Homo sapiens: one gene and its partner. The protein of the gene in region 1 purifies or fractionates together with the protein of each later gene. This does not show direct contact. Each region holds a gene or a part of one and is shown on either strand. Other genes may lie near its edges. The genes, in order: ZDHHC23 and POF1B.

What was found.
Region 2: the proteins of ZDHHC23 (region 1) and POF1B purify together in Homo sapiens (affinity purification with mass spectrometry; 2 studies listed by BioGRID and IntAct, with this or other methods). This does not show direct contact.

Annotation. Positions count from the first base shown.
Region 1 is NC_000003.12:113,957,953-113,964,015, reverse strand, and holds the end of ZDHHC23 (palmitoyltransferase ZDHHC23), read right to left. Parts: intron 5,654-6,063; coding exon 5,386-5,653; 3' UTR 4,496-5,385; coding exon of another isoform or gene 4,473-4,495; 3' UTR 3,297-4,472; coding exon of another isoform or gene 3,283-3,296; 3' UTR 643-3,282; downstream 1-642. UniProt on the Homo sapiens protein: Palmitoyltransferase that could catalyze the addition of palmitate onto various protein substrates and be involved in a variety of cellular processes.
Region 2 is NC_000023.11:85,369,470-85,376,671, forward strand, and holds part of POF1B (protein POF1B), read right to left. Parts: intron 1-7,202. UniProt on the Homo sapiens protein: Plays a key role in the organization of epithelial monolayers by regulating the actin cytoskeleton. May be involved in ovary development.

The DNA of each region.
Region 1 (6,063 bases):
TATTTCTTCTACGACATGGCTGTTCCCACACAGCTTTTCCTTTAATAGGATTATACAGTTGTCATTTAAAAAAAAAAAAAACCTGTGTTTTTCAAGATGAATGGCCACTAAAGAAAATGTAACTAAAAGTAATTCATAATACATCACTTTCCATCAAAATCACTAACAGTTTAAACCTAACTACAGTACATTTACAAAATACTGGCTGATATTAGCACCCGGAAATGAAATACCAATTTTATTATTTTGTTTGTTCTGTGTTTTTTTTGTTTTGAGACAGGGTCTCACTCTGTCACTGTACTTCAGGCTGGAGGTAGAGTGGCCTGACTATGGCTCACTGAATCCTGGACCTCTCAGACTCAGGTGATCCTCCCACCTCAGCCTCTCAGATAGCTGGGATTACATGCCCAGCTAACTTTTTTTTTTTTTTTTTTTTTTTTTGGTAGAGATGGAGTTTCACCATGTTGCCCAGGCTAGTCTTGAACTCCTGGGCTCAAGTGATCCTCTCAGCCTCCCAAAGTGCTGAGATTACAGGAGTGAGCCACCACACCCAGCCACCAGTTTTCTTTAAATGCCAAGCCTGTACATAAGGTTGAGTTCCTTAAGTCAACATGCCAGGCGCATAAATAAATCCCACAAAGCTTAAGTTTTCTACCTTAGCTTTATTTTTGCCTCACCTCAAACATCAACTAGAAATTGAGTCTTTAGCAGCCCATATTCCAATGGCGCCAGCTAGACTTTTTACCGAATACAGAGCCTTCTAAAGAGATACAATGGAAATAGTTTTGATGCTGTTTTTTGCTGGACTATCATGAAAGTATGTTTCAAAATGTTACTGTTAACATAATGCCCCAACAAGCAGTATCCCTGACCCACAAAACTGGAGAAATTGCCACCGGGAACATAACAGTTTAGGGCTAGGGACAGGGCCACAGGATAGAGACATTGAGGGAGCCACAGAGGCAGCACAGGTATAATGCAGGGTTTTCAGAAATCAGAAGACTTCAGGAGACACTCCAAGAAACACCAGCTATTTTCCTTAAAGAAAGCACTTTATTTTCCATTTAAACAACTTGGTCACAGGACGTTATTTTACATAAATGGAAGTAATTTGTAAAATTTCCATGTAAAAGGCCTTGTGTCTGAGTCTGAGGTGATAAGAGGATATGAATACAAGTATATAAAAACAGTGCAAAATGTGCAGCCCACAGCCTCCGGAGTTGGCTTCAGAAATCCCCCTTAATGTTGCTAGACCAGTTACATTAAATATTAAATGTAACACCAGGTAAATATTCCTGGGTTTCCTTTAGTCTAACATCCAACCCAGATATGCAATAAAATGAAAAACTCAAAATCCCTAACAACTCAAACCATCCAATCACCCAGACCATTAGGATCACAATGAGTTGAGACTGCAGGCTCTATACTGTGACATCTCGTCAGTGGCTCCATCTTAAGAAATACAGAATTTTAGTTGCATCAGTAACTAGAATAGACTAGCTCTGCTTTTAAAGCTTTGCCTTTTAAATGTAGATTTCTAGAAGTTCACTTTCAAGGTGCCATCAAGAAGGCTAGGCCACTAAGAAGTCACAAGCCCAACCTAGACATCGCAGCCTCTTAAGACATTTGTCTTCACTAACCGTTCAGTCTTTAACCTGCTGCTGATCCTACAATGAAAACACTTAGTGCCAGCTGAAGCGTGGATGCTTGTCTATCAGCAACATAATTAAGTGTAGCTGATTCTGCAAGAAATTTATATTAGTCACAGCAGACATCCACAGGAACATACTGAATCGTACTCAGTAGTGAGTTTAGGATGGCTTTCCTGCTCCCCTGCATCACCCTTGCAGTGTTTAATACAAAAGGGTGCACATGTCAAGCTGCCGCTGAGAAAACCAGATTCCAAACAGGTGCCTCAGGAAAAGTCTCTTATTATCCATTGCTTGCTTAAGCAACCTCTACTTTTCAAAATGGAAGGTACCAGAATATGGCTACAATTAAGTTAGGTCATATAAACTTACCTAGGTTAAAAAGACCCTTAAGTCTCACAAAACTGTAATTTTTAAACATCCTGGCTAAAACTGTGCTTCTAGATGTTATATTTTTGCTTATACTAGTTGAGCTTTATAATCAAAAGCTAATGTCCTACTCAAAGGAAATACATGTCTATTAAGCAGATGGTCAGTGGTATGTAGAACCTTACTGGCACTGTGTTTTCTGGCAGTGGAAGATTCTAGTACAGAAAATTGTCTCTTGCTAAAAATATTAGAAGTACCAAGGACTATTGCATAAGAGAAAGTTTGTAGCAATTTTTTGCTAGGCAGATGGTACACTTGAAGACAACAATGACTTCATTCACCAAGGAAAACACTACTTAGCAAAGATTTACAATATCCTAAACACAAACACATATGTGGCTGAGGTGGAATAAGCAGCACGTTGTCCCAAAAACACACTTAAGGCTTTACTTTAGCAGCATCAGGGTAACCTATCAAAGAGGCGCTGTTAATGGTCAGTTCATTTCAGGAACGCTCGGCTGGAACCATAAAAGTGCTCCGTGGGTATTGTAAGAAACATTTTAAATATTGAAGGATTTTCTTCTTTCATGCAATCCTGATCCTTAATCTTTCTCCCTTGAATCTTTCAAATCGGTCTGTTCTTCTCCCCCCAGGAACAGTCCACAGTGGTGTGATAATAATCTAAGTGGCCAGATGATAGTAGGTAATTTATTAAACTCCACATCCAGTATGTTCATTAACAGAGACTAAGGACGTGAGATGAGAGAAGAGGACCTGCTTGTTTGAAATCATGTTCGAGGGGCTTGCTCCTCTGCCCAAGAGACTGCTGATTTATAGGTTCACCGGGCAATCCTCCACTGCCGCCACCACCAAATGCTTCCCTGGGACTGATTCATTCACAGAGGCCTTGTCCTTTCAAAGATTCCACAATAAACTCATCTGGCCCCTGGAGAGAACCAAGGCCTATAATGAAACCCCTCAAATAGTTCCAGATCATAAAAGGCTCCAAAATCCTATAAACCAAAGATGTCACAGAGCCTACAGAACACTGCTCATGGATTAGCCCCTTGTTTGCTGCTCCTTTCGGTACAGACGCCTGGGAAGGCTTTTCCCACACAAGATCACTCATCTTTTGACAGGTTTAAGCATTCTGTCAACTGTCCATCATGGGTTCTCAAGGAACTTAAAACAAGTATCTTCGTGCCAATAAACCTGAATAATACACAGAGTCCCTTCCTATCCATGGGAAGGAAGCGGAGTTGGCTCATCCAAGTAACCCTATTAGAGGTAAGTTGTTAAAAAAAATTGTCATCATTCCTAATTCTCCCAAATTATTTTGGTCTCTTTGTACTACTTATCTTCATCACATCACATTACATTTAGATGTTGTGAACAATTTGGCAAGAAGCTAAAATTACTGACTAATGTTTCTATCAATTTGTATGATCAATGGCTAGATAATCAGAGTTGGCTCTACAGCTGACATTCAAAAGCACGACTACCAATTTCTGCCCACACAGGCTATCCTTGACATTATTACTGTCTCTCTTATGTAAAACCTGTATAGAAAGAAATTTGTTATATCAAATCCAACTTTAATTCTAGATGAATATTCAGCTCTGGGCCAGGGAGAAGGCATCACTGTACAAACCCCAGAGTCTGCTAACATCCCCAGGCACAGAGCCTATCATTCGTTAAACAAACCATCTCTGGGGAAAATGACAACAGCCTGAATAAGAATATGGTGACCATCTTAAGGACAGCTCCAATTAATGGCAACAGTAGGGACGGTGCTGGCTGCAGAGGGTGGAAGTGCAGGAAGTAGCAATATTTCCTCTCAACAAATATAAATCTCTTGCTTAAAGCAGCATGCACAGAATGACTGAAAACGCTGGCAATATTTTCCCTATATTAAGCTATAAGCCAAGGCAAATTTAAGGAGTCATGAATTATCTTTGGGATTGCACAACAGTACATGTTCAAAACTAACATTTCAAAAGGGTATTTTCCTCATCTGAAATTCCCTCATCTTAATTCTATAGTAGAACAACCCATTGTACATAAATATTTAATCTTTTATACATTTTCGGTTTTAAGATATGATTAAAGAAACAACTTGTTATTGTCGGAAGAGCCAGGGAAGAACAGTAATCCATTAATAGTGGAAACCACATATACCCTGTTTCTTCTCTCTTAGTGAGATACTGTTATTTAGGGAGGGGTAATTGAGAATTAATGTGCAAGTTAAGTGGGAAGATGTCACTCAACTCCTCAAAGTTCATACCAGAATAATGTGAATGCCAGAAGGCTGATTTTCACAATTTAGTGCTATAACTGACAGCATTTGAAATACATGAAGAAAATAATCGAGCCCGTGATGTTACTCAGCCTTCCTACCAGAAAAGAGAGTAAAGCATCCCCACAGGAGTGTCTGTTCTCCTCTTCCAGCCACAGTCACAAGTGTGCTAGCACCTTACCTGGTGAAACATGGGAAGAGGAAAAACACATGAATGCCTGTTGGAGTTATTTATAAGAAACCCAAGCAGAATTTATAAAATATAAATAGAAGAACTCATCACCTAAACTCATGGCCACACTACATTACACTAGCAATAATTATCTTTATAACTGTTGTCAACTGTCTTTTCAAGATGAGACAACTTAGCATCAATCCATCTGGTCATCTTCTCTGTTTGAGTAGTTCATGTCTAATAAGAAGGAGAAATTCTCATAACTGTACAACAAGGTATATGCTGAAAACTGATTACCCTAATAATATTGGCTTCAATATTCTAGACTATAAACGTTTTTCTTCCATCATAATATTTTCCTAATACTTTGTATTTCCATGGCTCTTGAGTTGTTTTTTAGTGCTTTCCACATCCATCTTCCCTCACGTGACCCTCATGACGGCTCTGTGAGGTAGCCAGGGCAGGCATCAGTACCCCACTTTGCAGATGACCCTGAGACTTGGGAAAGTGACTCAGCTAGGGGTCACATGGCTATTAAGAATCGAAAGAGGGACTAGAAACTATCCTAATCCAACACTCTTTCCTCCATACTAATGGATGGGAATTGCTTCTATCAATTTGTGCATTAGCAATCCACATCCTTCTCAAGTTCAGGCAACTGAGTCAATTAAAAAGGTGACTGGAAAGGAATGGCTCTACTTTTACTGCCTCAGTATAAAAGTCTCTTAAGTTGTGGCGTCAGAAAAATTAACTTCTTCCCACTCCAGTCTCTAAACCTGAGCATGGCCCTATAATGCCTTTAAGAAACTGGGGATAGAAATGGACACTGAAGTGTAAAATGGAAGGGAGACGGAAGGAGGAGCCATCATCCCTCAGAGAGCCACATAGAAGGCACTTCAGACAATGTCCTCGGCAGGGTGGTGGAATGCACGTGTGCCCAGGGTGGAGAACTGGTGCCAGTTCCGCAGGAAGCCCCTATTGTACTGGCCTGTGTCCACGATGAGCCCGCAGAGGAGCCGGCGCCCAGTCTTCTGTCGGAGGGCCTGCTGGACTTCCCGCTCAGTCACATTGTAGCTGATGTTGATCAGCTGGATCAGGAAGATGTAGGCCATGCCTGCTGTGATGATCACAGAGTACCACACGCAGGTGAAGGACAGAGCCGAGCTAGGAGAGGGAAAAAGGCTGTCAGGGCTGCCGTTTTTGTCAAATTCAGAAAACTGTCATCATTCTCACGTTTTACACATTTTTTTACTTATTACTAAAGACTTTGGCATCTTCCCCAACCCTCCGAACTGGAAGATACTCAGAATGCCAATAACCTGCTTAAGTAGGAGAATGTGTGTGTTTATTCTATAATTACTGGTGCCTATTTTCTAGTATATTACACTAGAATAGCAGGGACTGTTTTTTGCATTTTGTACCCTCCACACACCCAGCACGCTGCCTGACATAACAGCGTTCAACACCTGTTTGTTAAATAAACAAGTAATTCGTAAATTACATCTAACTCATGAGAAAACAAAGGCACCAAGGGACTGCTATAAATGTCTTCTAGGAAGCTGCAGGTGGATGCC
Region 2 (7,202 bases), on another chromosome or scaffold:
GACTATTGTTGTCAGTTAAGATGTCTTTACATATATACCTATGTATAAATAGTAATATTATTGCTTTCATTGTTCTACAACTTAAACCAAACAGTATCTCTTGTATTATGTACTAGATACATGTTTTAACTCATTATTTTCAATTAATAGTATTCCAAAATGCTTGCTTTATAGCTTGTTTTTATGTTTTCCTGCTGATTAACATTTATATTGTTTCCAGGTTTCCACTGTGCTGCAATGAGCATCCTTGTGCAACATGTTTCTTTAGAATCCCACACAGAATTGGGATTGCTGGGGCATGGAGTATGTGTGTTATTCATTTGAACAGATACTGCCCAACTAATTTCCCAAATTTGACTATGATAATTATACATCCACCAGCAGTGTGTGAAGGTATTCATGTCTAGAGGATGTTTGGTCTGTTTAGGCTGGGGCTAATAATATTATACTAGTATCATTCTGAGAAGACAACTATACACATGGTTAGTATCTGGTAGCTGTTGTAGAAATGATAGCTCTGTCCTTCTTGTAACCAATTCAAATATGATGGCATTAGCAAATGAAACATAGCAAATCTTACTAGCCAACTGGACTAGCTTTTAAGATACAAAAGCGTACTAAGAAGTTTTATAAATCTGCAGAAATTTAAACAAATAGGAATACACACACATCACACATCACAGATAAAGACATTTATTTATGCTAGTATAAGCAGTATTACTTTATTCAGATGTTAAGATAATAGATGTTTAAATGGCAAACAGTTGTATTTGAGCAAAGACTAGTCTTGCCCTAAAATGAAGGAATTCTTTAATCTTCTTATATGTGGAAAGCTGGAACATTAAGTCCATAGATTATAATGTACTCAATTATTTTTAGCCCTACTTCAGCCTTCATTATTAAAATTGATCATCTAGACAAATGTGGCTTTCCCACGCAACCCTCATGGAAACATTAGAGAACAAATATAATAGGTTCAAAAATTACAACATTAAGATGTAGCTTAATATGAGTCAAAGATATTTAGACATATGGTGTTGAACAGCATGAATTTAAATTGCATCAGTATGGATTTAGGCTGATCATAAGGGGGAAAACCTCTCTGAAAATAGGTTTATTAATTCCAGAAATACTTGCTAAAGAAAACCCCTTTTCCCTGGAAGTCTACAAAATTAAGTAAGATGGTGTGAGTAAATGTCCAGAATGAACAAAACCTTGATGTTGAAAGGTACTTTCAATGGCATCAAGATCTAGGCAAGATTGCAGCAAGTCATCCCATAAATAGCCATTGACCATTCCATAGAAAGTGATCCAAAATATTTTTGAAAGAATGAATGAAAAGGAGATCTTAGTTTTAAAAGCACTCCAGGAATAACAATCCAAATCTCCCTCTTAATAACCTGTATCAGTCAGTGTTTAATTTTGTTACTCATCTGTGTATAGCTTACCTAAATCCTTCATGTTGAAACTATTAAATTCAATGAACAGTCAATGTTTTTGTTTTTATGCCTTTTGTGCCACAGCCCCACATTCCTGATGACCAAATAATTGAAGGCGATAATGGGGTGGTGGTGGTTATCATGACATAGTGGAAAAAGTGCTAGACTTGGAGTCAGCAGACCTGGATTTTATTCCCATTTATACTACTAGCCACTTTTGTAATACTGGTCAACTCATGTTCTCTCTCTGAGATTTGTTTCCTCATGTGAGAAATGAGAAATGGGATATGGGTGTGGGCGAGTGTGGATTAGAGGATCTTTAAGTTTGTTTCTGACGTTCTGTGAATATAAGAGACCATTCCCAACTTATTTTTCCATACAAACAAAACAATTTCAAATTTTTTAAACTTGTCAGTATTGTTTTCCTTTTGATGATGATTATAATGATGACTAACACCTATTAATAGCTTTCTGTGCCAAACATGTTACATAGATCATTCTCTTTAACACTCAAAATAACCCCATAAAGAAGATACTATTATAACCCCATTACATAAACAAGTGAAGTTAGACAGAGGTAGGATAGGTAACCAGATGGAGATTACACAGCTAATGCTAAGGTGCTGGAATTCCAACTCAGCATGACTCCAGAACTCATGCTCTTAATCACCATATTTTGCCACGTTTATTGCTTGCTTCATTATATTTTCTGTTTTTCAAGTTGTGTAACCTAATTATATGGTTAAGTTTGACTAGTCCTTATAACAGAAGGTCAAATACTGGGACTTTTAAAATTATTCAGTGTCAAAAGCAACTTTGGAGGCCTGAAAATAAGACACCCACCCACAAGTAGCTGTGTGAGAGAACAGCCTTGATTAGATAATTTAAGTTTCCATAAACTCAATAGAATTTGTAAAACGCGTGGTACATTTACAGAGTGTACTCACAAGCCTCTAAAACTCAATAAACCATTGAATTTTTGTTTAATGCTCATATCATCTAATCTCTTCAATTTTGCAGGAAGACCTTACTTTTTCTGATAAAATATTCAGCATTTTGTTGAGTCGTTTATTCCTGTGGGTCAGACTTGCTATATACACAAACATTATACTTTATTGGCAACTTTAAGTAGAGTCTGGTGAAAAAGAATTTGGGGCCGGGCGTGGTGGCTCACGCCTGTAATCCCAGCACTTTGGGAGGCTGAGGTGGGCGGATCACGAGGTCAGGAAATCGAGACCATCCTGGCTAACATGGTGAAAACCCGTCTCTACTAAAAATACAAAAAAATAGCCGGGTGTGGTGGCGGGCGCCTATATTCCCAGCTACTCAGGAGGCTGAGGCAGGAGAATGGCGTGAACCTGGGAGGCAGAGCTTGCCGTGAGCCGAGATCGTGCCACTGTGCTCCAGGCTGGGCGACAGAGCGAGACTCTGTCTCAAAAAAAAAAAAAAAAGAAATGAAAAAGAATTTGGTTTATAATTATGTGGGCTTGGGGATAATTTCATTACATCACTTGAGATAATTGTCCATACCTTTGTACACACTAAATCTGAGCTAGGAAACTCTGGTTTCCCTAGAGAATTCATTATTCATAAAAGTATATCTTATTTCCACCTATTTGTTAAAAAAGCTGTTTTCAGGGGAACATCACACACAGGGGCCTGTCAGAAGATGGGGACCTAGGGGACGGATAACATTAGGAGAAATACCTAATGTAGGTGACGGGTTGATGGGTGCAGCAAACCACCATTGCCCGTTTATACCTATGTAACAAAACTGCCCTTTCTGCACATGTACCCCAGAACTTAAAGTATATATATATATAAATATATTTTATTCATATTTATATATATTATATTATATATACTATATATATATATACTTTAAGTTCTGGGGTACATGTGCAGAAAGGGCAGTTTTATATATAAGCTGTTTTCAGAGTTAAATCAGATGATGTGCAAATGGCCTAAATGTCTCAGTTATTTACTTTAGTGAAAATGCTTTTGAGTAGCTCAGTGCAGTAAAGAAAGAAGGGAAGGCAGAAGCTCAAAAGGTGTTATTCTCCTTTGAAAGAAAGAAAACCTTAAAAACTTAATATATACCCTGAATTCTAGGATTATTTCTGAGCAAGACCTTGAAAACTAGAGGGAAAACTATTTTTGTCCTCTAATGTATTTTTGATATTTTCCATTCTGATAATGGAACATTAGAATGGGAAAATATACAGTAAGGGTAATCATCAAATGTTTTGTTGAAATAAAAAATGTGAACTAATTTAAACTGAAATCATGAATATCGAAAGTTAATTAAGGGAGATAGCTGATGTAATGAAAATATCAGGAGCTGGTTTTTAAACTCAGGGCATTCACTAACCAGCTGTACTAAATAGGCAAGTTATTTTGAGCTATTCGAGTCTCAATTTCCTTATTTGTTTAACAGATAAATAATACACAATGAATATTGTCTTTATTTGTACATCGTACAATTTGTACAATAAACATAATAATGCATGTTTTATCTAATTGTTGAGGTTCTATCAAGTTGTTTACTAGATAATCATATACATGGAAGAGTTGTGAAAAACAAAAAACCCATGTATTAATATGAAATATTATTTTCACTGGATTGATTATATATGTGACTAAGTTACTAACTTGCAGTTTCTTTACTACTTATTGTGTAGTGGCATTGAAAGAGATACAAATGATGTTAGAATATAATCTCTACCCTCTCATGGTTATAATCATGTAGGGCATAAACACTATGAGTACAAATAGGAATTAAGTAGACTATCATAAGACCTATAAGAAGCTCACTAGGTAAGTTTTGAGGGCTAAGAGATAACTTCAACCTGGGACAATCAGAGGATCAGAAGGTTACACTTGAGGAAAGGCTTGAAAAATTTGTATAATTTCAGGGTGTCTAGATTGGTGAGGGTGAGGAGCAGGAGCAGTTCAGATGTAAGAGCAATGGAGTGAAAGACATAGCTGTGGAAAATTGGGGACTTTATTTAGAGAACAATCATTTACACTTAGCTAAAACATAGGACACCAGAAGGAGAGTTCCAGGAAGTTCCACAGGAGCCCTAACATGGAGGGCCTTGAAAGTCAGACTAAGCAATTTATAGATACTTAGTGTCATTGAAGGTTTTTGCAGCAGAGGAGTGATATGGGATGTGTATAGGGAATTTAAGCAACTTTTCTAGAGAACATATTCTTAGGTGTAATTAAAGTTGTGGAGATTTTAAAATTAATATTCCTAGGGACTCCAACTAGACTGCTTCATAGTTCTATTCTGCCAAAGTTCACCTCATGATTGCATATTTATTTACAGCTCTTCCTGAGACATTCCACATAGACCTTTTTGGGCATTTTCTTCATACAATTTTCTCTGCAATTGGTCTTTAGACTGCAAAATCTGAACCTCTTCAGTCAAGACCTGTTGGCTTCATTTTCCTGTTGATAGCTGTGGTCAAAGAGCTCAAAAGCCTGGTGTAAGACATACAAGAAAGACTGAAGGTAATGAGAATTAAATCATAGAGAATATTACATACGTAGTGCAGGCTTTGTTTCTAAATATTTGGAAACTTGCTAACATGAAAGTATAACTCTTTATGTTGTCTAATTTGAATTTTAAAACTTTACATAAAGACTAATATACAGTATAATATTCCATGAAGGAAAACCATGGAAGGTTTGTGTATGCTCCTGTTACTCCCAATGACTATGAGAATCACTGAAGGTAATAATGGTGAGTTACAAATACTCTAGGCTGAACAGTTTCAAAAGAAGCAATATCTTTAAAAACCACCTGACATTTATGCTGACAGAATTTGCCAAGGCAAACCTCCATTTGAATAAATTCCCTGAATAGTATGGGAGATGTTTTTGTTAGGATCTTTCAAAGCCATGTAACATAGTTAAACACCTGTCTGAGGTTATTGTTGAGATGTTATACTCAACTTATATAGCAAGAAACATGTTATTTATAATAATCTCTCTTTAGATGAAATAAACACTTCTTTGATTTAGGATAAAATCTGTGTTTCTGTTGTCATACAAAGAAAGCAACCGAATGTATAATAGAACTACTTCCTGTTCCTCCTTCTCTCCAACCCAAATCCCTCATTTAAGAGGTCCATATTGGGTTCTTTCTCTTCTTTTTCTGAAGAAAACTAGGAGACAGAGAGAAAATAAAATACACAGTCTTTTTTGCAGTGCATGCTTTCTGTCTTTAAAAATTATGAGTATATATACTTTATTGAAAATCAAAAAATGACCTCTACTGGGATAGCCCCTGGTCTGAAGAAAAAGTTGGCTGAAATATATTTATTAATAAAAGTTTTAACTTTTAAATAGGGCTTAAGAGCATGGCAAATTTCCCAATTGTTTTGTCATGAATTGTCAAGAAAATAAACTTGAAAGGACAGTTTCCCTCTCTTCCACTTGCCACCCTCATATCTTGCCACACACACACCGTGACAGCTTATGAGTGCCTTTGACTGAAAACAGGCCCAGCAATTTATCAGACCTCCGTTAAACAAGATACAATTGCCATGGGCATTTTCACTCAGCAATTAGTTGCACTCTCCAATTTCTATAGCTTCATTTAATTGTAAGCACAAAAGAGGAGACCAAAGCTGAAAATGCAACCCCTTTATCCTATGACCTCATTCTTTTTTCAGGCAGCGCACTTCCTTGAACAATCATTCACTTTAGTGACTACGCCCTTGAACAACAATTTATCAAAGCAGCACACCCCTCCCCACAGAACGGGAAACTTTTCTGATAGTGGAAGAGAAGAGTTATCCACAATCTTTGCAACCAAAGAAAAAGCACAAAAAAATCATATAAACAAAGGTAAGCCCCAGCTGAATAATTGTTGAGAACAGAGGTCATTCGTAAACACACATTTTCCCCCAGGCTGCTCTCTAGAGTTTCTTTGCAAGTTTCAAATTCAAAAGAATGGCAACCCTTATAACATATACACTAAAATAATCCTTCTCTCACAAAAGCATGTTTTACTTGATAAAATGCTGATGGTCACAACACAAAATACTCCTTTAAAATGAAATATAGATAGACACATGGGACACCTACAGACCAGGCTCTGTATGTCTGTCCTAAAAATGAACTCTCCCTGGACAGGTTAATGGTATTTATCCAGAAAATCACAGTGTTTGCTAAAAAATAGGCACTTAATAAACATGTATTCAGTGAATGACTGGTATTTAAAAATATTTTATTTTAATCCATTTTTTCTCTCTCACATTTTTTCTCTCTCATGTATACAGCTGCTCTGTATGCATGAAAAATACCTCGAACTTCATGAAAACCTTAATTAGTGGAAGGAAAGAATGTTAGCCCAATGAGTAATTCATATCAATGTTGCTCATTTAAGGCATTTCATTTTGAGTTAATGATGGTAGGTTAACAGCTAAGCTTTGTAAAAGATTGAACTAAGAATTTTTGTTTTACTTTAAGCTTCTAGAACTCTATTTATTTGCAAGACCACATTCAGTTCTAAAATGCATCTGAGACCTTGATTATATCTGTGTTTGACTATACGTGTTCATGCAGATAAACCCAGTAATTTTAATTCTACCATTAATTTAGAAAATTTCACCAGCAACTGGTTTCTACACTTAATTTTCTCTGAGAAACACTCTATCAATCAAACAAAATAATAACCAAAAAACATAAAATATATGTTTAATTAAAGAAACAAAGTAACATTATATATCTAGATAAATTTAAAATATGTTT